Linked DNA regions of Homo sapiens. The protein of the gene in region 1 interacts with the protein of each later gene in a pairwise test. Each region holds a gene or a part of one and is shown in the gene's direction. Other genes may lie near its edges.

Region 1 (9,718 bases):
GCGCCTTCCTTCAGGAAGCTCTACAGGCCTCACCCACCAGCCCCAGGGCTGTGCCCAACACTGCCACCTCCTGCAGCATCCGCCCTCTTTCCCATGGCTCAGCCTCTGGGGTGGCCCTCTGGCTGGGACTGGGGCTCTGGGGCTCCTGGTGACTCCCAGGAGCAGGGACAGGGCTTCTCCTCTGCCCCCATGGCCTTGCCACACCCTGAGGACAAGGACCAGGCACAGGTGGCATGGTTGTTGCTGTCCGAAACAGAGCTGGCAGTGAAGGCTTGGAGTCTCCATCCTGGGGGCTGAGGGAAGGACAGCAGGAGGGACAGGAGGGGAGGTATGTCTGTCTACTCGACCCTGATTTCTCAGGGAGACAGAACAGCCAAGGGCCTGGGGTCCCCAGACTTCTGGCCAGCTGCCTCTCTGGGGCGAGGAAGGGCCTGGGTCCCTGAGGGGAGGAGATGTGACAGCGGGAGAGGATAGTGGACAGGAGCAGGTGTGCCCAGAGGGGTCCCCAGGGGTTGGGATGGGGGCCAGGGGAGCTCTGAGCCTGTGGGTGGGTGGGCATGGCCTGTGTGTGTGTGTGTGTGTGTGTGTGTGTGTGTGTCCCTGTGGGGGGGAAACTGCCTGTGCTGCAGTGTGATGGCATTCAGGGTGGCAGTCACACACTCCAGGGACCTGCTGGTACATAAAGTCGGGGCAGCCTGGTGGGGTCCGGGCCGCCTGGAGAGTAGGTGTCCTGAGCGCTGGGCCCAGCCCATCGTGATACATCTAATGATAAACACAAATTCCTAACTTTTATGGGAAATCTCGTTGTTTCTAACATTGGCTCCTACTTTTAAAACTTTCTAAACAAATGAAGCCAAACACTCTTGGGTGCCTCGCCAACCCTCTAACTGCCATTTTGTAGCTTCTGCGTGGAGGCTGCCATGGAGGTTAAAGGCAGGGCCTGCAGAGCAGGGCCCTGTCCTGGCCCTCCCAGTGCTGTCCGCGGGATGGGGAAGTTCCACAGCCTTCTGTGCCTGGTCTCTCATCTGGGAAACGGGCAGAATGAAATCATCTCCCGCCGGGCTCCTGTGCTGAGCAATCTCCTCCGTGAAGCCCTGGGCTCATATGGCAGTCACAGTGTGGGAATCAGCACTGCCTGAGGGGCTGTGGCCAGGGACAGTGGGAGGAAGAGCTGGGCTCAGCTCTCCAGGCCTGTACCTGCCTGTGTAATGATGCCTGGGAGGCCTGAGCCTGCAGCCTGTATTGTGTAGCATGTGGGTGTGGCGGCTACACCCCGAGGCTGCAAGGAAGTCATTTCCCTCTAGGAACCCTGCTGTCCCCACCCTTTCCCTGCTGGCTCAGGGCTGCCTCCCAGTCCCTGTGCCACAACAGGTCTGACCTGCATGTGTTGGCGCTGCTGTGGCCTCCTCCAGGCTGCACGCCTTAGAAGCAGGCTACGCCTTCCTGCCCTTGGCCTGAGAAGGGCTTCTCCAGCACCTCGGGGACCCCAGCCCCCAGACCCTGGGGTGGCCACTGCCCCAGAAGCCGGGCTGAGACAGGATTCAATGGGGAGGGCCCGTGGGCAGGGCAGAGGCTTGGGCCCCTGGGAGACCTGGCCCTAGAGAAAGAGGCGCGGTGCTCACCTTTGCCCCGGCCTTGCAGGCCTGGATGGCTCTGCCGCCAGCCTCTTTTCTTGTCCAGGCTTCAGGCTGAGCATCTCTTAGAGGGCCTCAGGGATGTCCAGTCCTGCCCTGAAGGCCGCTGAGGACTTAGGATGGTTTAATACTGAACCCACAGCCGCTGGGGACGCCTTGAGGGGAGCCACAGTGTGTGTGCATGTCTCACTCTGGGCTAACTTGTGAAAGGGTGAACAGCTCAGGGGCCCAGAAAACTTAACTCTGGGGCAGGCAGAGGTACAGGGGAGGGCAGATGATTCAGACCCCACCCTGATGGGCCGGGCAGTCACTGCAGAACCCAACCCGGTGCAGTAAGCCACTGCGGGCAGCTGTGGCCCAGCCCCAGGCCCCAGATATTGGGAGGGGCCCCTCTCCTCCCGGCTGTGCCACCCTCACCAAAGGGTAAGTGGGCCAGGACAGAAGGAGCAGGAGGCAGAGCTGCGGCCCCCTCTCAGGGAGGCACCCTCATTGGATGACCCTGTCATGGCCAAGCCTGACCCAGGCTCACTGGGAGCTAAAAGGCAAAGAAGAATAAACCCACATCTGCCCTCAGGGAGCCCAGTGCTGAGAGGCCTGGCACTGGGACAAACTCGCAAACCAGAGTCCTTGAGGGCTGGAGGGGGCCTCCCGGGGCAGGGCATAGGCCACTGCAGGGATGGCACGGAACAGGGCAGCGGAAAAGGCAGGAGTCCGAGGCCCAGGGCCCTGCCTCTGGCGGCTGGGCGCCCTTGGTCACATTGTTGGTGCTCAGAGCCTCAGTTCCCACAGCTGTGCAGCGAGAGGAAGCTGACGGCACCGACCATGGCTGTGGAGGCCTCATGTGTCAATTGTTGCTGTTCTGCAGGAGGAAGAGGATGGCAGGGCCACGCCCCAGCCCATGGGCCAGGCTGCTCCTGGCAGCCTTGATCAGCGTCAGCCTCTCTGGGACCTTGGGTGAGTCCACGTTGCCCTGCAGCCCCCTCCTGGCAGGATCATCCCTTGGGCAGGCATTGCCCTTGCACGGGGATCTCACGGTGTCTCACCTAAACACGCTTGGCCATTCAGCAACTGACCACTGCCCACCTTCAGGGCTGGAAAACTTGAGGCTCCAAGCTCTTCAGCCTAGAGAAGCTTGAGCCCTGACCACGGGGCCTGAGAATAGGAGCGAAGGAGGCTGTGTCTAGAGGAAAGAGGAGACACCCACCCAGGACTGAGGCACCCAGAGGATGCACTGAGGCCCCAGAGGTGTAGTCAAGAGGGTTATAGGAATTTGGAGAAGAGAGGCACTGCTGACGTGTCACTTGCTCTCTGAGTGTCACTAGTGGACAAATCACTGGAGCCAGCTCCTACCACTTGAATTTTGTCTGTTAGAGGGGGTCCTGCTGGTGGCTTGAAATAGACCACGACAGAAATGTTTACACCACAGAAATTGGCAAACGCTACACGTCAAGCACCAGAGACCAGAGCCGTTGTTATTTTTTTATTTAATTCAATGTATATGTAGAAACATGCTCTCACTCTGTCGTCCCGGTGAAATGCAGTGATGCCATCGTGGCTCACTGCAGCCTCAACTTCCCAGGCTCAAGCAATCCTCCCACCTTAGCCTCCCATGTAGCTAGGACCACAGGCATGCACCACCATGCCTGGCTAATTAAAAACAATTTTTTTGTAGAGACAGTCTCACTATGTTACCCAGGCTGGTCTCAAACTCCTGAGCTTAAGCAATCTTCCTACCTCGGCTTCCCAAAGTGCTGGGATTACAGGTGTGAGCCATCGCACTGGCCACCACAGCCATTGTTAAACACTGACCAGCACACCATTGCCTGAAGCCCAGGAGACCTCTTACTGTGTACACCAGGTGCACACAGTAGGTCCTCACTGTGATTTTTAACTGAGCAGAGCCAAAGGGAAATCTAGAGTTTTACTTCATTCGTTACTGAGGACCCACTGTGTGCCAGGTGTGCCGGGTGCTAGGGCTACCGTGATAAACAAGACACCATTCCCTTCACCCTAGAAGGGGCTCAGAGGACAGACAGGCCATGTGGCAGTGGTCTCGCCGTGAGGCACAAGCTGTGATGGAGGAGGTACCTGAAAAGGGTGCTAGGTGCAGCTCATCAAAGGTAATGGGGAAGGCTGAGGACCGTCTGGCTGGACCTGAGGAGGCAGCAGGCCAGGGGGTGGCCAGGGTGTGCCAGCACCGAGTGTGCCAGTGCCACTGTCTCAGTCCCCACCTTCTGTCCTTCTGGCTTGAGTGGGAAGTCCCAGGTTTGAAATCACAGCTTGTTTCTAGCTGTGCTACCTGGGGCAGATCACATACCCCTGGCCTCTGTAAAATAGGGAACGGCTGGGTGCAGTGGCTCACGCCTATAATTCCCAGCACTTTGGGAGGCCAAGGTGGGAGGATCTCCTGAACCCAGGAATATGAGACCATCCTGAGCAACATAGGGAGCCCCTGTCTCTACATAAAATAAAAAATTAGCTGGGCTACTTGGGAGGCTGAGGTGGGAGGATTGCCTGAGCCCAGGATGTCGAGACTGCAGTGAGCTGTGATCATGCCACTGCACTCCAGCCTGGGCGACACAGCAAGACCGTATCTCAAAACTAAATAAAATTGAAATGCAGGTTGGGCACAGTAGCTCACGCCTGTAATCCCAGCACTTTGGGAGGCTGAGGCGGGCAGATGATTTGAGGTCAGGAGTTCGAGACCAGCCTAGCCAACATGGTGGAACCCCATCTCTACTAAAAATACAAAAATTAGCCAGGCATGGTGGTGCCCACCCATTATCCCAGCTACTCGGGAGGCTGAGGCAGGAGAATCACTTGAACCTGGGAGGCGGAGGTTGAAGTGAGCTGAGATCGCACCACTGCACTCCAGCCTGGGCAACAGAGCAAGACTCGTCTGAAAAATAAAGTAAAACAAAATAAAAATACAACAACAACAACAAACCAAAATAAATACATAAGGCCGGGCCCGGTGGCTCCCACCTGTAATCCCAGCACTTTGGAAGGCCAAGGCGGGTGGATCACAAGGTCAGGAGATCGAGACCATCCTGGCTAACACGGTGAAACCCTGTCTCTACTAAAAATACAAAAAATTAGCCGGGCGTGGTGGCGGGCGCCTGTAGTCTCAGCTACTCCAGAGGCTGAGGTGGGAGAATGGCGTGAACACGGGTGGTGGAGCTTGCAGTGAGCCAGGATCACGCCACTGCACTCCAGCCTGGGCAACAGAGCGAGACTCTGTCTCAAAATAAATAAATAAATAACATAAGGAGGGAATCCCCATCTCTCCAGGTGAAGGTGCAGGTGGGAAAGTGCTTGCCTTTGCTGAGCGCCTCCCCATTCATGTGCCCACATCTGTCCCCCCAGCAAACCGCTGCAAGAAGGCCCCAGTGAAGAGCTGCACGGAGTGTGTCCGTGTGGATAAGGACTGCGCCTACTGCACAGACGAGGTGAGGACCTGGCCCGGGTTGGTGTGGAACAGGCAAGGGTCGGGAATAGCTGGTGGAAATGAATCTAGGGTTGGGGCAGCCAGGGAATGGGTGCTGCCCCCAGTGACCCCCTGTCCTTCTGGCCAGATGTTCAGGGACCGGCGCTGCAACACCCAGGCGGAGCTGCTGGCCGCGGGCTGCCAGCGGGAGAGCATCGTGGTCATGGAGAGCAGCTTCCAAATCACAGAGGTGCCTGGTGTGGGGACTGGGGTGGGGGCTCCCCATGCTCAGCCTGGCTATTTATGGGGGTGTATAGTGCCCCTTGGCCGGGCTGGGCCCCCATCGGGCCTCCGGAGTGACCCTCTAGCCAGCTGTCCCCTTCCACTGGCTGCAGGAGACCCAGATTGACACCACCCTGCGGCGCAGCCAGATGTCCCCCCAAGGCCTGCGGGTCCGTCTGCGGCCCGGTGAGGAGCGGCATTTTGAGCTGGAGGTGTTTGAGCCACTGGAGAGCCCCGTGGACCTGTACATCCTCATGGACTTCTCCAACTCCATGTCCGATGATCTGGACAACCTCAAGAAGATGGGGCAGAACCTGGGTACGGCAGGGCCAGAGTGGAGGACAGCAGGGCAGGAGGGGGACAGGTGGGCGTCTGCTTGGGAGGCCAGGACTCAGGACAGCTGCACCCACCCAGAAGGAAACACTGGACATTTGAGCCCCCAAAAACCTTCCCTTCCATTCTCAAGGGAAGAATCTCGGTCAGACCCTACTCACCACTGGGGACTTCTGAGAAGGCCCAGGGCAGGCGGGCAGTGGAGCCATCTGGCCCTGACAAGGAGGGCACCCCCTGCCACGAGGCTGTGGGGAAGCTTCTGCTCCTCAGAGCTGGGCTGCATTCCCAGCCACCCTGCCCTTGCTGTACGCATAACTCCAGACCCCCAGTCCCATTTCCCTCATCCATAAATAGGAACAGACAATGTTGTGAGCATGAACCTTTGTCCAGCATGCAAAGCGTTAACCTCCCTCTTCCTCCCTTCTGAGCCAGCCCTTGGTGGGGGGCCCGTGTTTATGCCAGGCATCAGGGCTCAGCTATCCCCTCTCTGTCCTTTTGACATCCAGCTCGGGTCCTGAGCCAGCTCACCAGCGACTACACTATTGGATTTGGCAAGTTTGTGGACAAAGTCAGCGTCCCGCAGACGGACATGAGGCCTGAGAAGTAAGTGACTGTGTGGGTCCCGCAGGTGGGCAAGGGTCCAGGCCATGTGACCCCCACTCCTCTTTCACCCACAACTTAAAATTATCCTTCTACGGCTGGGCACGGTGGCTCATGCCTGTAATCCCAGCACTTTGGGAGACCAGGGCGGGCAGATCACCTGAGGTCAGAAGTTCAAGACCAGCCTGGGCAACATGGCAAAACCCCATCTCTACTAAAAAATACAAAAATTGGCTGGGCGCGGTGGTTCACGCCTGTAATCCTAGCACTTTGGGAGGCCAAGGCGGGTGGATCACGAGGTCAGGAGATCGAGACCATCCTGGCTAACACGGTGAAACCCCGTCTCTACTAAAAATACAAAAGATTAGCCAGGCGTGATGGTGGGCACCGGTAGTCCCAGCTACTCGGGAGGCTGAGGCAGGAGAATGGCGTGAACCCGGGAGGCGGAGCTTGCAATGAGCCAGGATTGCGCCACTGCACTCCAGCCTGGGCGACAGAATGAGACTCTGTCTCAACAAAAAAAAAAAAAAAAAAAAAATTAGCCAGGTGTGGTGGTGGGCGCCTGTAATTCCAGCTACTTGGGAGGCTGAGGCAGGAGAATCACTTGAACCCAGGAGGCAGAGGTTGCAGTGAGCCAAGATCGTGCATACCGCACACCAGCCTGGGTGATAAAGCGAGACTTGGTCTCAAAAAAAAAAAAAAAAATTCTCCTTCTAGTTGAAACGAGCCAGGGGCACTGGGGTCTGCGGCGTCTTCCCCCTGTGACACTCTCTCTCCCTCCCACCTCTGCCCAGGCTGAAGGAGCCCTGGCCCAACAGTGACCCCCCCTTCTCCTTCAAGAACGTCATCAGCCTGACAGAAGATGTGGATGAGTTCCGGAATAAACTGCAGGGAGAGCGGATCTCAGGCAACCTGGATGCTCCTGAGGGCGGCTTCGATGCCATCCTGCAGACAGCTGTGTGCACGGTGGGCACTGGGAAGGGTGCTGCCAGCCTAGGCCAGGGGTGAGCACTTCTGGGCAAGGGCCTGAGCTGCCCCCTGGCCTGCTCTGGTGCCAGGCTCACAGGCCCTGAGGGAAAGCCTGGGAGCCTGCAACCCCTTCACCCTGAGACAAGCTCAGACTCTGTGAGTAGGTCTCAGTTACAATCTGAGTTCAGATGTGCCTGGAGCCACGGTCCCCTGGCCTGAGCAGTCACAGCCTGGTTTCGTATCAGCTACCAAGGCAGACCTGGGCTTTAGCGTTCTGGAATCTTTAGTACCCTGAACCCACCAGCTGCCCAGACTCCACCTGTTCTGGGCATCCAAATAAGCCATTTCCTTTGATATGTACATCCATTTGTTCATTCTGAAAATGACATACCCATATTACTAGGTTAGAAAACAAAGAGCTAGCCAAGGCGTGGTGGCTCACACCTGTAATCCCAGCACTTTGGGAGGCCGAGGCGGGGGGATTGCTTGAATTCAGGATTTGAGACCAGCCTGGGAAACATGGCAAGACCCTGTCTCTACAGAAAACACAAAAATTAGCTGGGTGTGATGCACGCCTGTGGCCCCAGCGCCTTGCGGGGGCCGCATCTCCAGCTCCTGTTTCTCAGCGTTGTCACTCAGTCATGTGCCGTCAGATGCATCTTTCATGAGGGCACTTGCTGTGAATCCAGTGGCTTAAGCCCAGCCCCATGTTGGGACCCGCGTTCCCCGTCCTACACGACGCCGTGATGCGTGTCAGCAGGCAGCCTGCTCAGTGGGCACGCCCCGCCTTGCCTTCCCCAGAGGGACATTGGCTGGCGCCCGGACAGCACCCACCTGCTGGTCTTCTCCACCGAGTCAGCCTTCCACTATGAGGCTGATGGCGCCAACGTGCTGGCTGGCATCATGAGCCGCAACGATGAACGGTGCCACCTGGACACCACGGGCACCTACACCCAGTACAGGACACAGGACTACCCGTCGGTGCCCACCCTGGTGCGCCTGCTCGCCAAGCACAACATCATCCCCATCTTTGCTGTCACCAACTACTCCTATAGCTACTACGAGGTGCGGGGCCCAGGTCCCACGGGTGGGAGGTGGTCAAGGTAGGGGGTCCATGGAGCTTCTCAGACACCTCTCCCTCCCTCCCTCCCTCCCTCCCTCCCTTCCTCCCTTCCTCCCTCCCTCTTTTCCTCCCTTTCCTTCCTCCCTTCCCAAAGCCTTTAGACCCCCCAAAATGTGGGCCCTAGTGGGAAGGGGAGGTCATGTGCCCATCTTCCACCCCAACTCCCAAGCAGGTGGGGGCTAAGAGGGCAGGCTCTGCGACACCACAGTAGGTTCCAGGCCTCAGTTTCCCCATCCTCAAAGTGGGAAGAATCCTAGAGCTGTTCAGATTCATGGAGATGCTTAGCCTGAGACCTGGCCTTCTCTCCCGCAGAAGCTTCACACCTATTTCCCTGTCTCCTCACTGGGGGTGCTGCAGGAGGACTCGTCCAACATCGTGGAGCTGCTGGAGGAGGCCTTCAATGTGAGGGCAGCTCAGGCTCCAGAGTCTGAGCCCTTCTGGGGCAGGGCAGGAAGTGGGCAGGGTGGGCAAGAGGTGTCTTGGATCACGGTGGAGAAATGGGTCTGGGACAGACCAGTGAGGAAGGGTCTCTAGCTATCCCTGAGGCCCCGAGGGGCCACCTGGGCCTGGCCCTGGCTCCTGCAGGCTCTGTGATACCCCGCATGATGCCAGCCACACTTGGAGGTTGGGGTGGAGCACAGAGGCCCCCCACAGAGCACTGATCAACCTCCTTCCTCCTTTAGCGGATCCGCTCCAACCTGGACATCCGGGCCCTAGACAGCCCCCGAGGCCTTCGGACAGAGGTCACCTCCAAGATGTTCCAGAAGACGAGGACTGGGTCCTTTCACATCCGGCGGGGGGAAGTGGTACGCCTCTGTGGGGGCAGCGGGGTGGGGGATAGGCACAGCGCCCCACACCGAGTGGAATCGTTTAAAACAGCGGTCAAGAGCGTGGCCCCTGGAGTCAGGCAGGCCTGGGTGCAGATCCCTGGGCCTAGCCGCTCGGATGAGCCTAGGTTGCTCCTCTGCTTGTTGGTTTCCTCGGCATGCAAGCGTCGAGCCCGGAGGCTTGCTGGGGCAGTAAATGGGTTAGTGTCACGAAGCCCAGAGGCCCTGGCCACTGTCATTGTCGCTATGATTGTGACTGCGCTGGGAAGGAGGGAGTTTCCAGCCCTGAGGGAGGTGAGCAGGAGCTCATTTCAGGGATCCAGACATCTCCTAGGAACTTGGGGGCCGAGGGCCTTCAGGCATCGATGGCCCCCTGGTCCTTGGGGCTGGGCCTGCCTTGGCTGACCACGGGGCCCCTGCAGGGTATATACCAGGTGCAGCTGCGGGCCCTTGAGCACGTGGATGGGACGCACGTGTGCCAGCTGCCGGAGGACCAGAAGGGCAACATCCATCTGAAACCTTC
Region 2 (7,330 bases), on another chromosome or scaffold:
AGACTGGCTTTCTTGTTTGTGGAACCCCCAGGCTGTGAAGACAGAATCAAGCAGGCAGGGGCTGGAGGGGACAGGCAGCCCCAGCCTAGCTCTCAGCCTACTCAGCTTAAGGAGCCCCAGTCCTGGGACCCGAGCTGTGGGGAACAGAGCACGCTGGGGGCTTTGTACTTTGTTTTCCCAACACCTAGCTCGTTCTGGGTCCCAGATGAGTCATATGACCATGCTGGATTTTCTGCTGGGGCCGAGAGAAGGATGTTGGCTAAGAGTCCTTTCCCCGCGCAGCTTAACGGCACAGTTACGCAGTCAACAAGCTTTTGATGCCGGCCCACAGCAGGAAGAGACCTGTGCCAGTCACACAGTGGAATACAAAGGAAGTTGGAGGGCTTCACCCTTGCTGCGGCTTGATCTAGTTCAACTGCTTTGGGAGTTTGACACTCGGAGGGCACTGTGCTCCTGCTGAAGAGGGTACTGGGAGATCCCTGCTTCCTGTGCCCAAGCTCTGGTGTTTTACAGGTCAGGGCCTACTGCAAGGGATGGCCTACACTGTCCAGGGCCCACCAGGCCAGCCTGGGCCACAGGGGCCACCCGGCATCAGCAAGGTCTTCTCTGCCTACAGCAACGTGACTGCGGACCTCATGGACTTCTTCCAAAGTAAGGGCATCCAACTGCTTTCCCAGCACCTGCCTCACTGCATAGGTTCCCACGGGTCTGCTCCAGAGACACCAGTCTCATGAGAAATCTCCAGTTATTAACATTTGAGATGCTCAAAATTAGACAAATTCTATAAATTCTGAACTTTGTTTCCTCTTACACGTCCAAACTCCATCACTATCTCTCTGTGTTACTCTGAACAAATGACTTGATGTCCCAAGCTTCCAGGTGATCAAGACTCTAAGGCCAGTGTTTCCTTGCTTTTGCAGCTTATGGAGCCATTCAAGGACCCCCTGGGCAAAAAGGAGAGATGGGCACTCCAGGACCCAAAGGTAAGTGGTGGCAGAGAGCCAGTCCCTGGATCCTGTGTTAACACCCACCTCGTACTGAAAAGCAGCTCCTGTGCTGGTGCCACACCGGCTACCTGTGCCCTCAGTCCCCAGACTCATGTATTACTTAGTTACGCCCCATTTTTCCTTCCAGGTGACAGGGGCCCTGCTGGGCCACCAGGTCATCCTGGGCCACCTGGCCCTCGAGGACACAAGGGAGAAAAAGGAGACAAAGGTAAGTGTTGACTGCTCCACGTTTTGCATGTTCTGGAGGGCTGCAAGGCTGACGCTCATTAGAGAAGCAGGTGATTTGTTCCAGAGCAAGCCTGAGAAATTCAGGCAAATGCCAATTACTCCAGGCAGACACTGCCAAAAGCAGAATTTGCATAACAATCCCATTCACAGTGAGGAAGAAAAGGAGAGTGTCAAAGCAGGGAGGAAAAGGAGAACCAAGCTGGTGTTGAAATGGGGCAAACAAGTTAAATAAATGTAGTCTTACAAAAGATTTCACCTTTGAAGCCATCTTTGCAGTAGTCACGGTTGCCATAATTGCCCAAGCCAAGATCCCCACAGGCCACAAGATATGTTTTAACTTCCTACTGATCTTCTAACTTTCAGGTGACCAAGTCTATGCTGGGCGGAGAAGGAGAAGAAGTATTGCTGTCAAGCCGTGAGCTAGCCATGGCAGGACAGCTCCTGGACCAGGTCTCATAATGCATGTGGCACTTAGGTCCAAGGTCTCCAGAGGGTGAAAGCTGGAGTCTGTCAATGTCCTACTGAGACAGCACAGCCAACCTAGCTAGCAACATTTGTTTTAGTCTGAACAATATATACTTATAGAATTCAGTCAAAGATACACAATCTGAAACAGCTTCATGGGGTGGACTCTAACAGTAGTTGCAATGTTTTAGAATGAGACTTACTTCTCTGCTATCTAGATCTGAACTCCTTGGCTTCTTTACTTAGTTCAAGCCCCAGCCTAGGAAAGCCAGTTACATAAAAGTTGGCTCAGGAGTCTTAGAGCTTTACCTAAATATGAGCCCAGAAAACGGAGGATGGGGGTGGGGCGCCTTCCTGGAGGTGACACTTGATGGGGGTGTGTTCTGGTTACTGTTCTAAGGCTGTGCCATCAGCTCCTTCCTCCCCTGTTCATTCTGCATTCTCTAGTCAGTTGGCTAAGAAGTGACTCTTGCAACTAAAAAAATTAAGAAATTCACTTCCCCTCTAGGAGGTGATGATAGGGTTTCTAATGGTTATATGTATATCACATTCCCATTTGCTTAGAAAGTCTGATTGTAGCTATGATTGTCCGTAGGCCCATACTAGAGTTCATGGATATGTTATACTGAACCAGGCCAGAGCAAACAGAAAAAGAAGGTTGAGGGCAATGGACAAGGAAGGAATAAAGGGAGAAGAGGGAAAACAGAAAACCTGATGCTGGGGACACAGCATCAGCTCAAGACGTCACCCTCCATTCTGCACTCAGAAAATGGCACTTGGGGGACTGGGCGCAGTTGGTCTTTAACCACTTTTCAATGTCTAAAAACATTTGTTTGTGGTCTATAAGATGAAACATCATTTCAATCGTAAAATTTCCCATTAAAGAAGTTTTTTTTTCTAATATCATGTTTAATGTGATTCGTCTGACCAAAGAAAGATTAAAAAATAGTCTGGGTTAATTGGGTCTGATTCTAACACTGTTTATTACAAACACAAGAAAACAAAAGTGGTTGTATTTTGGGGCATAGCTTCTGGTATTTCATTCAATCCCTGAGGTCTTCAAAGGCAAATCTTTAGATACCTGCAACTATGAACTCAATCTGGGGATTTTACAAAGCACATGAAAGTTTTCCCCAAGCATAAGTTATTTGAAATAAACATGCAACAAATGAGCAAGAAGATTACTTGCAATTAGGTAGTGCTTTATCCTGGGGCAATGGAATTATGATTGTAGGGCAAGTAATATATGGAATATAGAAACTTCTATTAAAGAAAAATGTACAAATCTCAAATGCCCCAAAGAAATGCACAGTAAAATCAGACACTCCAATTGAGAAGAGACTCTACTTAGCCACTTTGTGAATTTGTTACAAGTTGTGACTCTCAAATTGCTGGATAATTAAAAATGGGATTAAATTGCATCTATTTCTACACCACTACTCTTCTAAAAAGACTTTATTTTCCATAAGGTCTCTGCTGAGTATCTCATATTATCCCAGAAAAAACACTCCACTTGTTTCCTCTATATCAAACAACCGCTAACGGCAACAACCAGTCAAGCACTACACACTCTACGTGGTCTTTTTGCCTCTTTTATTATATCCTGATAATTGCCTGCTATGAATTAATGAGAATTTTTTAAAAATAAGGCTGGGCGCGGTGGCTCATGCCTGTAATCCCAGAATTTCGGGAGGCCGAGGCGGGCAGATTGCTTAAGCCCAGGAGTTCGAGACCAGCCTGAGCAACATGGCAAAACCCCATCTCTACTAAAAATACAAAAAAATTAGCCGGCATGGTGGCGGGCACCTGTGATCCCAGCTACTCGGGAGGCTGAGGCTGAAGAATCACTTGAACCCAGGAGGTGAAGGTTGCAGTGAGCTGAGAACGTGCCACTGCACTCCAGCCGGCAAGACTCCATCTCAAAAAATAAAACAAAAATAAAATAAAAATTAGTTCATACAGCCTCCAGATTTCAAACAACTTGAGTTTTACTAAGCAAAACTATTGTGTATAATAAAGGAATTGTGCTTTTTAAATAATTTTTTTTCAAAAGAATTCATTAGTTTTACCCAAAGGCTGAATTTTTTACTTTTTAATTGTAGCTTTTACACTTATTAAAAGTAACTTCCAAAAAAAGGGGGGAAAAAGATGTTTTGACCCTTTAAAAAAAAGTAGCTTTAGGGGTTCAAGTATTATATCCCCTTTAATAGTGATCCTTATCTTGATTAATCAAGACATAGGAGTTTTTTCCTTGTTACTAGATCTACCTAAGATACCCAAAGTCTTCATCAAGTTTTAGCTCAAGTAAAATAGGGTACAAGTCCAAACTTACTACCTTCTCTGGACAAAACTCAGAAAGAGGATGGGCAGATATGAGGTTATGTCCTCAGCTGGATGGCAATGGATGTTAGCCTCTTTTGTTTCATTTTTTTTTTTTAAGTCAAGAATGAGCTCAATAGTGCACAACGCTCCCAGATTAGAAAATGACACTCCATGCCTCCCTCCAGCTGGACACGTGCCGAGTGATGCTGCCTAGCGTCTACTGAATCTTGCATGAACGTTATCAATGACGAAGAGACTATTTTTGCAGAAGTGAGGTCATATGATTTGTGAAATGCTTGGTGAGAAAAATCATCCATCCCAAGAGGAAAAGAAATTAAAAACATACACATATATACATAGGCTGATAGAAATATTTTAAGCACCTCCCAAAGGAGGGGTTTGCATTCTGAAAGACAACCCCCAGCAAGTTATCACTAAAAACTACATTTGAGTGTGTGTGTGTTTGCGTGTATGCTGTGGACTACACACAGCTAGGAATACTAACTCTGGAAGGGTCAGAAGACCTGCGGGGACTGCAAGTTTTACAATATAACTAGGACCAACAACTGCAAAGTGTTCTCAGGCAGGACACTCCAGTTTCAAAGATTCTCAATAAAAGACTGCTTCCCAAAATTGATTAAGAAATAACTTTATTTTTCATGTGTCAATCCCATGATTGAAAAGACATGTTGCTCTCAAGTAGATAAGAGGCATAATCTTAAACAAAATTCTTTCTGAAAATTTAGCTTATGAACTCATTACACTGCAAACCAGAGAAGGAGCACAAAAAGCTGCAGCCCACATTGAAACCTGGCAAACACTCTCCGCCAAAATTAGTAGCAGGAATGTTAAAGCTTTATCAAAAACATGTCAGCAACGGAATAGCAACAATACAGCCATTAACTGTTGTGCCTTCAACTTAAGAAAAGCATTTAAAGAATCACCCCATTTCTTATAAAAATCATTTCTCAGAAAAGAATTGTTAATCAAAAGACTATTAGAACTGGAACTCTCTTCTTTCACTTCAGTTCTAGATTTTCTTTAATCAACAATATCTCTAGTTAATACTTGGACAGAATTTGGCTTCTCAGAAGAGTCTTTGTCATTTAAGCACAGTGTGGAATGGGAAAAAGTGTATAGTTACAAGGAAACTAGAAGAGTACAAAAAAATAGTCACTTCTGAAACTCGCTGATGCTCAAGAAATCAGAGACCCTTCATTAAGGTGGGTCTCATATGCCTGAGAGCTTTGTGCTTGAGGAAGTATGACTTAGAGGTAGCTCTGGTTCTGGTAATTTATATTTAATTATAATTTGCTGTATCCTGTCACAAGAGAGTTCTAATATTTTCAGCAAAGTAAAAGCATTCAACATTTTTTCCTTACCCACCCTATAGCTTCCCCATAGAAAAAGATAAGAAAAAGCTTAATGTGACTCCACATAGAATAGCAGCTAATTCAGCAATTCGCACTGTATGGTTGTTGACAGGACTAGGAAAGGCAGCCTAGTGCCCCAAGCTGTAGGAGCTGGATCTGCAGAAGTGTGCAGGTCTGCTGTGTTCACAGCACTCAGGGAAAGAGGGGAGGAGGTGGCTGATGAGGGTGCACGTTCGGAGAAGTCTGTATGTGTTTCATGGCATATTCTGCCACAGCAACAAAACAACCAAATCAGCAGTAGATTTGACTGTACCCTTCGATTTCAAAGAAGTCTGCGCCCCTCGCCCACTCGCCACCTACACTTCATGCAGGAAAGATAGATCACTATCATCTATTTGAATACAGGGCCTCAGAAGAGGTGGGCTGGTATGGGTACAAACAGCGTATTTTATAACAAAACACTTTTTGAAAAGATTTATATAACTTTAAGTATTAAAATGAATGCTTTACCTCTACATATGTATCACTGTACAGTCTTGCACCCACACGATTATGGTCATATTTGAAAGCGAACTCAAGCACAAACACTGAATCCAAAAGGCAGTTTTAAGGGAGATCCAACCTTACCCACAGCGCCAACCATTCCACTCTGAGCCTCTCTCCTTGAGTCAATAATCTGAATGTCAAGTTGAAAGGAACAGAAAGAATCAAATATTCAGACCAAATTAATCAGGCACCACACACTATTTAGCGCACAGGGTATCAATTAAATGATACTAGAAAAAAAATGTCTACTGCCTGAGGTATTCATTTTTTAAAAGTCAATAAACTGAAAATTTCAAAGGAGAAAGTGGTATGAAGACGTTCCTTCCCAATCCCTCTTCAAATAAATCATTAAATACACTGGGCAACATTATACTGTCATTTTTATCATAACAATATAAACAATTTTTATCATCATCCTGAATATTACTTTATAAAGATATATATTTTAAAAGGCTTTCAAAACATTTTTCAACCCAGCATTTGAGAATAAAGCATTAAGAGTTTTGTATACAGTAACACATTCATGTGATAAGTGTATGAATTTACAACCATACATAATATGTATATATGTATATATATTTATATAAAAAACAAACTTGGCCAGAAGTTAAGGCTACCTACGAAGTTGTCCAAGTAAATTATGCTTGTCAAAACAATTATAAAATTCAAATCACACATGCATTTTTAAATCATCTAAATCACTGACAAACAAGGTTCAGCATCCAAAGTTTTCAAATTAACTGCAAGAAAGTGCTACAGACATTTACATTTTCTAAATATGAATCAGTGTTCCCACAAAGTTACATTTAAATTTTTCACCAGCCTCAAAAGTAATATAACTGAAAACAAACTTTCACAATTTGGTACCTAGCACTCTTAAGAGAGAATAGGTTGAAAATGGCAGGCAGCAAGCATCATTCACAAATGTGCTGTCTCAGACAGCAAAGTACAGTTTATAATACTGTCTGACCTGACACGTGGTTGAAATTCTAAGCCTCATAAGGGACTAGGAGTGAACATTTCATTAATAATTACACACACCAGCAACCACATGATAAAGGCTTCAGGCTTTTCCCACTCAAATCAAAGTGAATGATTTAAACATGGAACAAAATAAAACCAAGACATAAGTAGCCTCATTTCAAAATAAGGAAAAGTAATTCCTGACGTGCCTAAATATTTAATTTAAACTTTTAAAAAAGTATTCTGAACTAATGCCTCTTTTAAGATTAATTTCTGAAGATATATTTATAAATATAACTCACAGCCTGCAGGCCTCTGACAGAGTTTTAAACAGAATTAGCTAAGATGGAGAGAAATCATTTAACCAGCTCAGGTATTATTTTAGAAAATAAACACAGATAGCTAAACCTATATTGCTTAAATTTC
Region 3 (12,154 bases), on another chromosome or scaffold:
TACTGCATATCTCAATGACAGCTGTGCTCAGAGAGGGGGACCCAGTGGTCAGTATCCACAGCCCTGGGGAAAGGGGGATCTCCCCCCACAGGCCCCGGTCACTCTCCCCCACCCACCTCCTAGAGGCAGCTGAGCTGCTGCAGCCTCAGAATGAGGTGAGAAAGAAAATATATTTTTAGGGAGGCATATTTTTGGTTCCAGGAAAATGATTCTAAATGAGCAGTTTATTCCCAGGCACGGGGGTGTGTTCCTGGAATGGCTTCTGGGGCAGTGCCCTCCTCCCATCCTCCCCTTTCTCTCTCCTCCCCTCCTCTCTCCTCACCCAGCTTCTCCACCTCTGCACAGAGAAGAGGGCAGGTGTGTGAGCACAGCTCCTGGGCCTGGGCTCTGCCAATGGTCATTTCCTAGTCCTGTGACCTTCGATGGACAGAGTGGGACGGCCTGTGGGTTTGAATGAAGACCTTGGTTGGGGAGGGGGCTTATCCTAAGAGCTCTGTCAAAACAGAGCAGCTGGTCCAGGAGAAGGGAGTGGAAGAGAGAAAGGCCCCAGGGCAAGGAGTGAAGCCACCTGGGTTCTAGTCCCAGCTCTGCCACAGGCTTATTATGTGACCTTGGGGTCAGTCACATTCCGTTTTAAGGCCTCAGTATTCTCTTCTATGAAATGGGCAGTTAAAGTAGGCCCTGCCTGCTCTGTCCATTCTAGATCACAGGGAACAAGCCTCCAGAATGTTCTCAGCCTCGTCCACACACGATGTCAGGATGAAGCCTCAAGCTGGAGCTCAGGGCCTTAGAGGCTCTCCTCCCAGGTAGGGCTCAGCCCCTGTAGGACCATTTCAAAGCACCCAATTCTCCAAGGCCTGCCTGCAATGGCCCAGGGGAGATGTCGCCACCACCACCATGAAGCCTTCCTAGATTCCCTCAGAGAGGAGGTAGCCATTCCCTGCCCAGGCTCCCTCTGTTTTTTCCTTTGTTTTTGTGGGACAAGATCTTGCTCTGTTGCCCAGGGTGGAGTGCAGTGGCATGATCTCAGCTCACTGCAACCTCTGCCTCCCAGGTTCAAGTGGTCCTCCTGCCTCAGCCTCCTGAGTAGCTGAGACCACAGGTGCCCACTACCACAACCGGCTCGTGTTTTTTTTCTTTTGTTTTGTTTTGTTATTTTTTTTTAGAGATGGGGTTTTGCCATGTTGCCCAGGCTGGTCTTGAACTTCTGAGCTCAAGTGATCTGCCCTCCCTAGCCTCCCAACGTGCTACGATTACAGGCGTGAGCCAACGCCCAGCCCAGTCCACCTCTGACTTTGCTGGATTCAGGCGATAGTATCTGGCGGGGTGGTGGGTGGCCATTCAGAGGCACATTTGCCATAAAATGAAGCTGATGCTTCAGGGCCCTTCATTTGCACAGCCGCTTTCCAAAGCCTTCTTCCTAACTGTGTACTCGAGATCCCTTCAAACCGTATAAGCTTCAGACCCTACAGAGGTGGGACCCACCTTGTTTCCACCCCTACCCAGCTTGGAGTCCCAGAGCTCTCCTCTCCCCTCAAGCAGCTCCCCTCCCCGACTGCCAATCTGGGGCTTCTTCAGCCACAGGCCCTGCTGAGTCTACACAGCCTCTTCCCTCCTACAAGGCCAGCCCAGGCCTTGCTCTGTGACCTACAGGCCACAGAGCTCAAACAAAATCTGATTACTCCCCCTCCTCGCACACCAGCCCTGAGGAACCTGGGGATCCACCAGCCCTCAGGAACGCTTTGGGATCTACAGTTTGCAAACCCTCAGCTCACAGACCTGGAAGAGGCCTGAGTTCAAATCCTAACCTGTGTCTAGCAGCCATGTGTCCTGGGGTGTCACCTACCCTCTCACCCTACAAGGACTTTCCCAGCACACAGGGAGGTCAGGGAAGGCTGGCCGAGCCTGGCTCTGTACTAAGGGCGGGGCATGGCTCTGTGAGACCCTCATATGGGCCAGGTCCCTTCGGCGGGCAGGAGGCTCCCCACGATTGAGGACCCCTGTTGTGGGAAGGCCAAGCCTTCTCCCAGTCACCCTGGTCCGGCCACAGGCCTTGCAGATCCTTCCCCAGTGAGATTTCCACTCACTGGGGCACCAGATGGCTTCTGAGTCTCCCCAGCTTCCCCTAGGAGGACTTTGGGATCCTCCTGATCTGGAGCCCTCTTGTCAGAGCCCTGTTTTGGTTCCTCAGTTTTGGGGGTCACTGACCTCCAAGACTGCTGTCACTTGGACTTTCTCAGAAGCAAGCCTGGGCTGTGGCCTCCATCCTGACTCTTGGGCAAGACCGGAAGTTGTGGTGGGAGATGGTTGGGGTGGGGAGGGAGCAGGATGGAGATGGGGGTGGCGAGGGGAGGCCGGGACTTGTTTTGCAAGCCCTGTGATTGCCTTGAGCTGAGACAGCACTTGTGTTTGGGAGGTCTGGTAAGGATCATAAAGTCCCCTCTGCCCACGGGGGACAGCTCAGCACAGGGTGAAAAGCCAGGGCTCTGTCATCACATGCCTGGTTCAAATCCTGGCTGCCCACTTCCTGGCTGGGTGACCTGGGATAAATTATTGAACTCCTGTGAGCCCCAGATTCCCCAGCTGTGAAATGGGACGAAGTAGAGAGCAAGCACCTGGACAGGGCTCACTGTGTGCCGGACTCCAGGGCTGGCCGCTCATTTGGTTCTCATAGTAGCAGCCCTGGGAGGCAAGTTTGCTTGTCGTGCCCAAATTACAGGCCTGTGGGGAGGAGTAGATGAGGGTGTGTTTGGCAAGTGCTCAGAACAGTGCCTGGCAGGTAGTAAGGCCTCCATCAATCTTGGCTTTTAGGATGCCATGGGACTGTTGAGGTCCAGAGAGCTGGTTGTCTTAGCCAATCCCCTGGGGGACAGGTAGAGTCAGGTGACAGCTACTGAGCACCCACTCTGTGTCAGGCCTGGGCGTGCCACTCTGAATAAGGCATCTTAGGCTCACCTGAGTGGAGTTCAGAGATGCCGCTGAGGCGTCCCCACCCCTCTGCTGCTTGGTTAGAGCTAGGAGGCCCTGTCAAGGGCAGAGAAGGCTCTGACTGGGGTGGGGGTGAGGTGGAAAGGTTGAGATGTAGCCACTAGGCGTGCCTTGTGGGGTTCCCCAGGGGCCAGACTGCATGAGTATGTCTGCATGTTGGTGTGTGACTGTGTGAATCCCCTCGGTGACTCTAATTCATTCATCAAACGCCTCCCAATACACCACTGGGCCTGGCATTGCAGTTTAACTGTTGGCCTGGGTCAGGATCTCAGCTCTCACTGCCAGTCGTGGTGCCTCGGCATATCTCCTATCTTCTCTGTGTATTGGTTTTTCATCTGGAAATGGGGCTAATGTGAGTGTGCATTTGATAGAGCAGTGCCTGGCCCATAATCAGCTCCACTTGGGCCCTTCTATAGCTACTGTTCATTTGGGATACTGAATGCTCCCACTTTTGAGCAAGACAGACAGTAGGGACTGAAAGCAGGGTGGGGAGTGCAGGATGAGTGTGATCAGGATGCCGGCAGGACAGGACCAGGCCTGATCACCCAGAGGACATCAGGAAGACTTCCCAGAGGAGGCAGTGTGTATTCTAAAGGCCGGAGGGGGCTGTGACTATTGTGCCAGGAGGCGGCAGCAGCTGGTGCCTGTGGGTGAGGTTATGGTGCTATGAAGGGAGACCCTGAGTATGTGGGGATGTGGCTCCAATGCACAAGGAGGCCTGGGCAAGGGTGACTGTGCAGATGACCCATGTGCTTGAGGGCAGGAAATGTGTGCATCTGTGAACCCCAGGGAGACCTGGGACCCGGGGGGAGCAAGATGAGAAGGACCTTCAGGGGCCCAGACCTGTCTTAGTTCTGGCTGTGACCAGTGTCTTTGAAGAGCAGCAGGTGGCGCTCCTGGCCTGTCCAGACCAAAGATTCTCCACTGCCCCGCCCCCACCTCTTCCCCAGGATGTCAGGGAAGTGGAGTTGCTGCTTCCAGAAGTCTCAGAGCTGGCAGGAACCTCTGAAGATGGGCCATGCTCACTGCCCATCTTACTCATGGAAACCATCCTAATGGTCTCCCTGCTAGATAGTTCTCCGAGCCTTGAATACCTCTCAAGACAGGATACTTACTGCCTCTTAGAATTGCCACTGCTGTCTGTGGCCAGCTGACATCTGGCTCCTCATAATCCCCACCCTAACCCTGCTGGCCCTTTGGGAGCGCCTCAGGGTTGGTATGTTCCTGGGATCTGCTCAGCATCTCTGAAGGATGATGTTATCCCTACATCTGAGTCCCTTCCTTTGTAAGCTTCATTCCCAGCCACCTTCATTGAACTCCATTACGATGGCAGGGAAGAGCTCATGTAATCCTCACAACCTGGTACCTGGCCTGGCACACAGCAGGCACCCAATTTATGCTTGCTAAATGAATGAATGAATGAACTCTGCGTGGTCATTATCTCTATATTACAGTTGGGAAATTGAGGCTCAGAGAGGTTAAGTCACACATCCAACACAATACAGCTCATAACTGGCAGAACTGGGATTTGAACCCAGATACTTGGCCGACCCAGAGCCAGAGCTCTTCAATTCCAAGCTGTGCTACCTCAACAGAAACCAGTTTCCCACCTATTGCACCCCATCAGCCTCCCTGCCCATCTCCCCAAGGTGCCAGTCAAATTTGGATCGAGCATTGATGTCATGCCAAAAGATTTGAGAATTGAATTTTCAGAGGCTGGGACCTCAGAATTCCTAGTTCGAAAGTCTCCCTGTCTTCCCTGTCCAGGATCCCTGTCAAAGGGTGGTGAGCTTGCCTTTCATACCCTTTAGGGACTGGGCTCTCCCTCCCTCCTGGGGAGCCCCTTCTAATTTATCTCTACTTTATGTTGAGTTGACCTTTGTCCCCTGGTCCTCCTCCCAAGGGCCCTGCAGGACAAGTACAGTTACCCCCAACACCAAAAACCCATGGCTGGTCCCCCAGAGTCTCTTCCTCAAGGCCTGCCCCTCCATTCATCCTGGTTTTGGTTCCCCTTTCCTTGAGGGAATTGTTCCAGTTTCAACTCAATTTCGTTCCCCTATTTTCTTTTCTTTTCTTTTTTTTTTTTTTTTTGTTTTTGAGAAGGAGTCTCGCTCTGTCGCCCAGGCTGGAGTGCAGTGGCGCGATCTCGGCTCACTGCAAGCTCCGCCTCCCGGGTTCATGCCATTCTCCTGCCTCACCCTCCTGGTAGCTGGGACTACAGGCGCCCGCCACCACGCCCGGCTAATTTTTTTGTATTGTTAGTAGAGACGGGGTTTCACCATGTTGGCCAGGATCTCCTGACCTCGTGATCCACCCGCCTCGGCCTCCCAACGTGGTGGGATTACAGGCGTGAGCCACCACGACCGGCCTGATTTCATTCCTATTTTCTAATGGCAGGCTCTAAGCTGGGTGCTGGGACACAGGGGCCAGAGAGGAGAGTAACTGAGGGTAGAGACGTCCAGCCAGCTGTCATCAGCAAATAACCTCTTCTTGCTGGCTCTCAGCTTCCCCACCTAAGAAGTGAAGATATTGACAGACCGACCTTATGGGGTTCCTGAGAAATGATATAACACATGAAAGCGCTGGGCACCTGGCATGTGGTCAGGGTTCCAGAAATGTTTCACTCTCCCCTATCTTGCCCCAAAACACTTGGTTTTGAGCCCCAGTAAATGGGAAACACATTCATTGATTCAGCAAATTTGGATTGAGCATCGATGTCATGCCGAGCTCTGTGCTGGTGCTGGGGACATAGCAGTGAACAAGACAGACACAAAACCCTGCCCCCGCTGGAGCTAACACGCCATTGGAGACTTGGAGAAGTAAGAACAGCATGGGGTATGCCGCTGGGGATGAAGGTGAAGGGGGAAAAGGCACCGTGACCACACAGGGTAGAAAGACCACCAGCGCTAGAGACTGCCACTCAGAGATGTACTTTTCTCGCCATCCTGCACTGGAGGGGGTGGTCCCATTCAACCATGGGGGGTCTGAGTCTCAGAGAACTGGGGGCCTTGCTGGAGGCGCACAGCTGGTGTGGAAGCAGCTGCGCTCAGGTCTGCGTGGCTTTTCCTCTGCAGATCCACAGTGACAGGGCCCAGAAGTGACCACCCCCATGGTCCCCTGGGGAGACCGAGGCCCAGAGAGGGCCGGGCCCTGATCTGAGGTCACACAGCCCCTGGGTGTCCTGGAGGCATGAAAGCCCGTGGTCTTGGATGACCTCTGGCCCACTGGGTGGACTGGCTGAGTGTGTGAGGGTGACGATGGGAGTCCAGGAAGAGACACGTGCGTGGAGCCACAGGGGGAGGCTGTAGATGAAAACGCCCATGCGACCCCTCCGCTCGGCGACTTCAGGGAGCCAGGCCCGGGCCCTGGTATCCCACGCGGGACCCTTCCCTTCTACCTAGCACGGCGGCCGCGGAGGTGCGTCCGGCGGGCTCCGCGACCTCCAGCCCCGGGATCGGCGAGGCCGGCTGCTCACTCAGGTGTCCGGGTGCCCACTCGGCAGCGCGGGGCTCCCTCTGGGTGGGGGCGGGGGCTGGGACTGGGGTCAGAGGGCGCGGAGCCCCGCGGGGGGCGCACTGGGGCCCGCCCCGCCCCGGGCCCCTCCTCCGTTCCGCCCGCGCTGGGGGCGGCCCGGCGGCGGCGGCGGCGGCGCACGCTTCCTGCGGGCGCGGCCGCTGTGGGCGCGGAGCTGCGAGGCGGAGCCGGGCGGCCGAGCCGGGAGCCCGCGAGCCTAGAGCGCGTCGGTCCAGCCGCCGGGCCGCGCCGCCGCCAAGCAGCCGCCCCGCGCGCCGCGCCTCGGGAACAAAGGCGCCCGCCCGCCGCCCGCCGCCCGCGCCCGCGCCGCCGCCATGAAGCCGGGGCCGCCGCACCGTGCCGGGGCCGCCCACGGGGCCGGCGCCGGGGCCGGGGCCGCGGCCGGGCCCGGGGCCCGCGGGCTGCTCCTGCCACCGCTGCTGCTGCTGCTGCTGGCGGGGCGCGCCGCGGGGGTGAGTGACACGCGCCCGGATCCCCGCCACGGCTCCCCGGGGCCGCCCCCCGCGCGGGGTGCCGGTCCCCGCCCGCGACCCCCCCTCCGGGACCCCGCTCCCTCCCCCCCGGCTGCTTCCCCCGGGGCCGCGGTCCCTGCCACCCCTCGACCCTCCCCCGAGCGCCCCTTTCTGCACCCTGCTCCCCCCCCTCCGGAATCTCCCCCTAGCTGGCATCCGCGGGGAGAGGCCGCCCCCGCCGCTGGTCATCTTCGGGGGGCGCATCTCTCCTTCCTTTTGGGACCCCTCCCCAGAGGGAATCCCGGGAGGGAACCCGATCGCGGGTCCTCAGCCCTGTTCCCCCACCTCCCAGTGGCTCCGGGAACTGTCTCCCCGGGGACGAAGCGGGACCCCTGCGCTGGCCTGGGAGGCGCGAGAAGGACCCGGCGGCGGGCTGGGGGTCGCCGTCCCGGCTGGGTGTGTCTTGGGGTGGGAGTGAGCCTGGCTTTTGCCTCGTGGGTGTGCCCAGACCATGGCCACTTTTTGGGAATCGGATCGGTTCCCCTTCCGAGGGGAGGGTGTGCATTTGGTTCTTCCCAGGGTCGCGGCAGCCGGCCAGGGCAGTGGGCCCGGGAAGGGGAGGTGGAGGTGGAGGGTGACTTGGTGAAGGTGACCTGAGGGGGGAGTGAGGGTAACCCTGTGTGTGGGCGTGTGTGGGCGTGTGTGGCCAACTCAGTGAGGGGTGCGGGGACCTGTGGGGCGTGTGCAGGTGAAGGATGTGTCTGCCACATGGGTGGATGCCAGCGTGCCCTCCCGTCCGTGGTCGTGGGAGGGTGACCCATTGTGCATGATGTGTGCCTGTGCCTGGCTGGGCCACTGTTGGCTATGGCCGTGTGTGGCTGCAGTGGGTGAGGGTGTGTGTGTGAAAGACCTCTGGTGGGCGTGTGCTTGGACCCATGAATGTGTGTGAGTGCACATAGCAGCGTGTGCATGCAGGTGCATGGGGGACCCTGGACATAGGACGAGGACCCCTGAGGGGAACCAAGCATGTGCAGGTGGAGGTGATGGTATGTATGAGGTGACCCTTGAGTGTCCCTTTGAGTGACCGTAGCAGCCATGCTTGGTCCCAGCTCCGTCAGGGATGGCAGAGAAAGGAAGGACCTCATCCCCCTTTGAGGGATCCAGGCCCCAGATGAGTTCTTGTTGGACAAGTGTCCAGGTTCTGGCTCAGGCGGGCTGGGGATTTCTAGGTCCAGCCTCCCAGGTTGGTTCCAGGAGCTATGCTGTCCTGCATCCCCCAGGCTGAAAAGGACCCAGGCCTCTCAAGCAACACTGGGTGCCCAGCCGCCCTCTGCAAGTTCCTTCCCTTTCCCAGCCTCAGTGGGCCAGTCAGTAAGACAGGAGGAGGACAGGCAGGGGCTCCAAGCTTGCTTCTTGGATGGACAGGCCCCTCCTCAGCCTTCCCCATCTAGGGGGCTGTCAGCTGGAGGGAGGGGAAGTGTTGAGGGCTGACCTGTGTGAAGTGCCTGCTGGCCAGGATGTCTCATTCCCAGCTCTCCCCTAAGTGGGGTGAGAGGAAGAGGTCCCTGGGAGGGATAGAGACCCAGCACACCCTAGCAGCTGGGGTCGCCTTCTCAGCCAAATTTCTGAAAGACCATCCTTAAAATCAAAGGCTTGGGAATCACACAACCCTGGGTTCCAATCCTGCTACCCCCGCCGATTCGTGGCATGGTTTGGGCAGGTCCTCTTACTTCTCTGACCCTTGGTTGTCCCTCTGTGAAATGGGGCTAATGACCCCTTCCTCAGAGGGCAAAAATTCAATGGGATGACTGACGAGTGTCCTGAGAAGGAGCTCAGGAGTCATGTGGTGTGCACATGAATGAAAGGGGCTCAGGACAGAAAGCTTTAGACTTGGAGGCCAGGTGGAGCGCTGGGCAGGCCACTTTCCTTGCTGAATAAGGCTAATAATTCATACTCCACGAGGTGGTGGAAGGACTTAGTGAGAGCATTTAATAGCCTCATGCACAGTAGGGCCTCGCAACACGGGTGACCTGAATCTGAGAGGTGTGGCTCAGACCCAGTGTTGGGTGGCAGATCAAGCAGACCCTGGGAGTCTGAGCCCAGAGGCTGAAATGGTGGGTGGGGCCTGGGGGAGGGCAGGTACTGGGGCGCCTGGTGAGGTGGTGGGAAGTGGAGTGTCCTCCAGGCCTCACATCTTCCCATGGGTCAAGCTGTCAAGGAGGGGCATCATCCCTCTTGTCCTCATCTGACTTGGGAGGAAAAGGGTTAATGGGTGGTACCTGGTTGCCGGGGTTCCGCACCAGAGGGAGAGGGCAGTGCCTGCAGCAGGAGGGACTGAGGTTAGATCAGAAGAGCCCCAGCCAGGGAAGCTCCAGGGGTGGCCTTGGTAGATGAGCGGTGGCTGGCACAGGGCAGGGAAGGGCAGGGACATGATGACCCTTGGGTCACCTGCCAGCCTTTGTGTGTGTGTGTGTGTGTGTGTGTGTGTCTTCGTGTCTTTCAGCATGGGGATAGCAGGGAGAGCAGGCCTCATTCACACTGCAGATGGTGAATTGCAGTGTGTGTGTGTGTGTGTGTTTGTGTGTCTGTGTCTGTCTCCTGGCATCTCCTTTGAGGAGTCCCTCTTCTGACAGACCAAGTTACCAGGACTCTGAGGGACATCTGCCTTTAAGGCCACCTCAGCTACTGTACTTAAGTCACCACTCAAAGTTTTGGAGTGTGAGGATCCTGAACATTTTAGCTTTTGAAACATGTTCTTTCAAAAGTCCAGGGCTGGAAGGGATCTTAGGTGTTAGTCTTGTTTGAATACTCCCAGTGATGGGAGACCACTACCTTGTGGCTGTGTGACCTTGTGAAAGTTACCTAACCTCTCTGTGCCTTAGTTTCCACCTCTTTAAAATGGAGACAATGCGAGAATGGAAGGGCTTAATTTGGAAAGCTTTTAGCCCAGTGGCTGGCACCTACTAAGGGCTCAACAAATATGGATTTCTTGTTCTTTTACAAAGTTGCTGTACTGTGGTTGGGAAGGCAGGAGGGGTGGGGAGTGGAAGGGTGGGAGACGTGTGTGTGTGTGTGTGTGTGTGTGTGTGTGTTTGTGAGAGAGAGAGAGTACGGATGGGGGTGGGGGTGGGGGTGGGGTGGGGTGGGGGAATTAGTAGGGAATTCTTTTGAAGCTCAGCCCCAGGCCTGGTGGTTTCCGTTCCTTCCTCACCCTGTTTCAAGCATCCCTGCTCTTCTCCCCTCCAGGCTCCCCTGGGTGACTGTGAGCCTTGGGTTTCCAGGATGAGATAGTCCTCACCAAAAAAATGGAAAGTTGGGGGCCCCTGGGCTGTTCTGGGCCAGGCTCTTGGGTGAACCATCTCCCCTTCCAGCATTTGGGGGACAGGCACAGGGACACCACAGCTGTATGCTGCCTGTTAGCTCCCAAGGTACCAGGGGCTCTGGGGACAGACACCTGCTGTGTGATTTCCAGTGAGGGATTTCTTTCTGTCTCAAAGTCCTTGTCTATAAAATGCGGACAGTAATGGTGTCAGCCTCACAGGGATGTTGTGACTTGGAAATGAGCTGCTTGAGTAGACCGAGCACACCTGCCACGTAGTGAGCTCTCAGGAGATGGGACCTTTCTGGGAGGGAGCATGGATGGGGTCAGGGAAGGCTTCCTGGAGGAGGAGGGTTTTGAGCTAAGCAATGAAAGTGGTCATCACATGACAGTAGCAGGCTGTAACCTGCCCTGACCCTCAGCTTTCTTACCTGTCAACTGGGGGCAACAAATACTTGGCTTTTAGAATCACTACTGGGGGCTGTGACTCTATCCTCAAGGCAGGGCTGGGATTTGAACCTGAAGCCTCCTGCTCTCTGGGGAGGAGTGAGCACAATGCCTCCAGCTGTGAGTTCAGTGTGTTGGGGGTTGGTGCGAGGTGAGCTGTGCTGGAAAAAAAAGTGAAAGAAAACAACAAACAAAAAACAAAAAAAATGGCCTTTTGAAACCCAGTGGCTCCTCCCACCTCATACAAGCGGGCATAGGGTCCCTGGGGGGTCCGGGGCAGCAGGAGTGGTGGCAGTGGTGGGGAGAGCGAGGGGGGGCTCATCCCAAGTGGGAGAGAGAGGTCATGTTTACCGAGAGCCCCGCCCACCAAGCACTTTACATGTATCGGCTTATTTCATCCTTACAATAATTTTTTGATGTAGGAATTATTAGAATCCTCATTTTAGTATTTTATTTTATTTAGAGACAGAGTCTCTATCGCCAAGGCTGGAGTGTGGTGGTATGATCCTGGCTCACTGCAACCTCTGCCTCCTGAGTACAAGCGATTCTCCCACCTCAGCCTCCCAAGTAGCTGGGATTACAGGCACCTGACACCACACCTGCCTAATTTTTGTATTTTTAGTAGAGATGGGGTTTCACCATGTTGCCCAGGCTGTTCTCGAACACCTGACCTCAAGTGATCTTCCCACCTCGGCCCCCGCAAAGTGCTGGGATTACAGTTGTGAGCCACAACCCCCAGCCAGAACCCCCATTTTACAGAGGAGAAAACTGAGGCACAGAGAGGCTCAGTGACTTACTCAAAGTCACACAGCCAGAAGTGGCAGAGCTAGTATGAGCCAGGGCCTGACAGGCTAATGGGACTGGGCTGCAGTCCTAAATTTACCCCCTCTTGCTGTGTGATCTTAGGCAAGCTGCTTTACCTCTCTGGGGCCTCCCTACCCCCTGGATTATGTCTGCATTAGCTACTGTTTAGTAAATGCCTGCTCTTCTGGCGGGGTGGGGCTGGGAAGGGGGTTGGTCCCATATCTTTTCTCACTTAATTCTCCCACAGCCCTGGAGGTCAGTGATGCTGTCTCACCCTGTGGGAGGGATTGGCCAGGGCTCTTCCTCATCTACCGCCTCCCAAGGCTCTGTAGCCCATAAAAGCAGCTACTCTGAGGGCCACTGGGGGTGTATGGGGTGGGGAGAGAGAGCTTTATAAACTGCGAAGGGCTGTCAGCAAGATTGTGTGTGCGTGCATGTGTACATTTGTGTGTGTGCCCACACATGTGTATGCGGAAGGGAGTTTATGTCTGGGTCATGTGGTCAGGGCACAGGAGAGGGGAAATGTTTGGAATCTCAGGATGAGAGGGGTCTAAAAAGCCACCATAAGCCCTGATATGTGCCAGATGCCCCCAGTGTTGGGGACTGAGTC

Evidence for each region.
Region 2: the proteins of ITGB4 (region 1) and COL17A1 interact in a two-hybrid assay, tested with the Homo sapiens proteins (one study listed by BioGRID).
Region 3: the proteins of ITGB4 (region 1) and SDC3 interact in a two-hybrid assay, tested with the Homo sapiens proteins (one study listed by BioGRID).

Annotation. Positions count from the first base shown.
Region 1 is NC_000017.11:75,722,195-75,731,912, forward strand, and holds part of ITGB4 (integrin beta-4 isoform 1 precursor), read left to right. Parts: intron 1-84; exon of another isoform or gene 85-233; coding exon of another isoform or gene 234-328; intron 329-2,499; coding exon of another isoform or gene 2,500-2,509; coding exon 2,510-2,588; intron 2,589-5,000; coding exon 5,001-5,083; intron 5,084-5,209; coding exon 5,210-5,311; intron 5,312-5,456; coding exon 5,457-5,661; intron 5,662-6,182; coding exon 6,183-6,279; intron 6,280-7,070; coding exon 7,071-7,242; intron 7,243-8,046; coding exon 8,047-8,310; intron 8,311-8,680; coding exon 8,681-8,770; intron 8,771-9,051; coding exon 9,052-9,174; intron 9,175-9,617; coding exon 9,618-9,718. UniProt on the Homo sapiens protein: Integrin alpha-6/beta-4 is a receptor for laminin. Plays a critical structural role in the hemidesmosome of epithelial cells. Is required for the regulation of keratinocyte polarity and motility.
Region 2 is NC_000010.11:104,026,559-104,033,888, reverse strand, and holds the end of COL17A1 (collagen alpha-1(XVII) chain), read left to right. Parts: intron 1-513; coding exon 514-651; intron 652-920; coding exon 921-983; intron 984-1,134; coding exon 1,135-1,215; intron 1,216-1,598; coding exon 1,599-1,654; 3' UTR 1,655-2,603; downstream 2,604-7,330. UniProt on the Homo sapiens protein: May play a role in the integrity of hemidesmosome and the attachment of basal keratinocytes to the underlying basement membrane. The 120 kDa linear IgA disease antigen is an anchoring filament component involved in dermal-epidermal cohesion.
Region 3 is NC_000001.11:30,903,269-30,915,422, reverse strand, and holds the start of SDC3 (syndecan-3), read left to right. Parts: upstream 1-6,664; 5' UTR 6,665-6,836; coding exon 6,837-6,974; intron 6,975-12,154. UniProt on the Homo sapiens protein: Cell surface proteoglycan that may bear heparan sulfate. May have a role in the organization of cell shape by affecting the actin cytoskeleton, possibly by transferring signals from the cell surface in a sugar-dependent mechanism.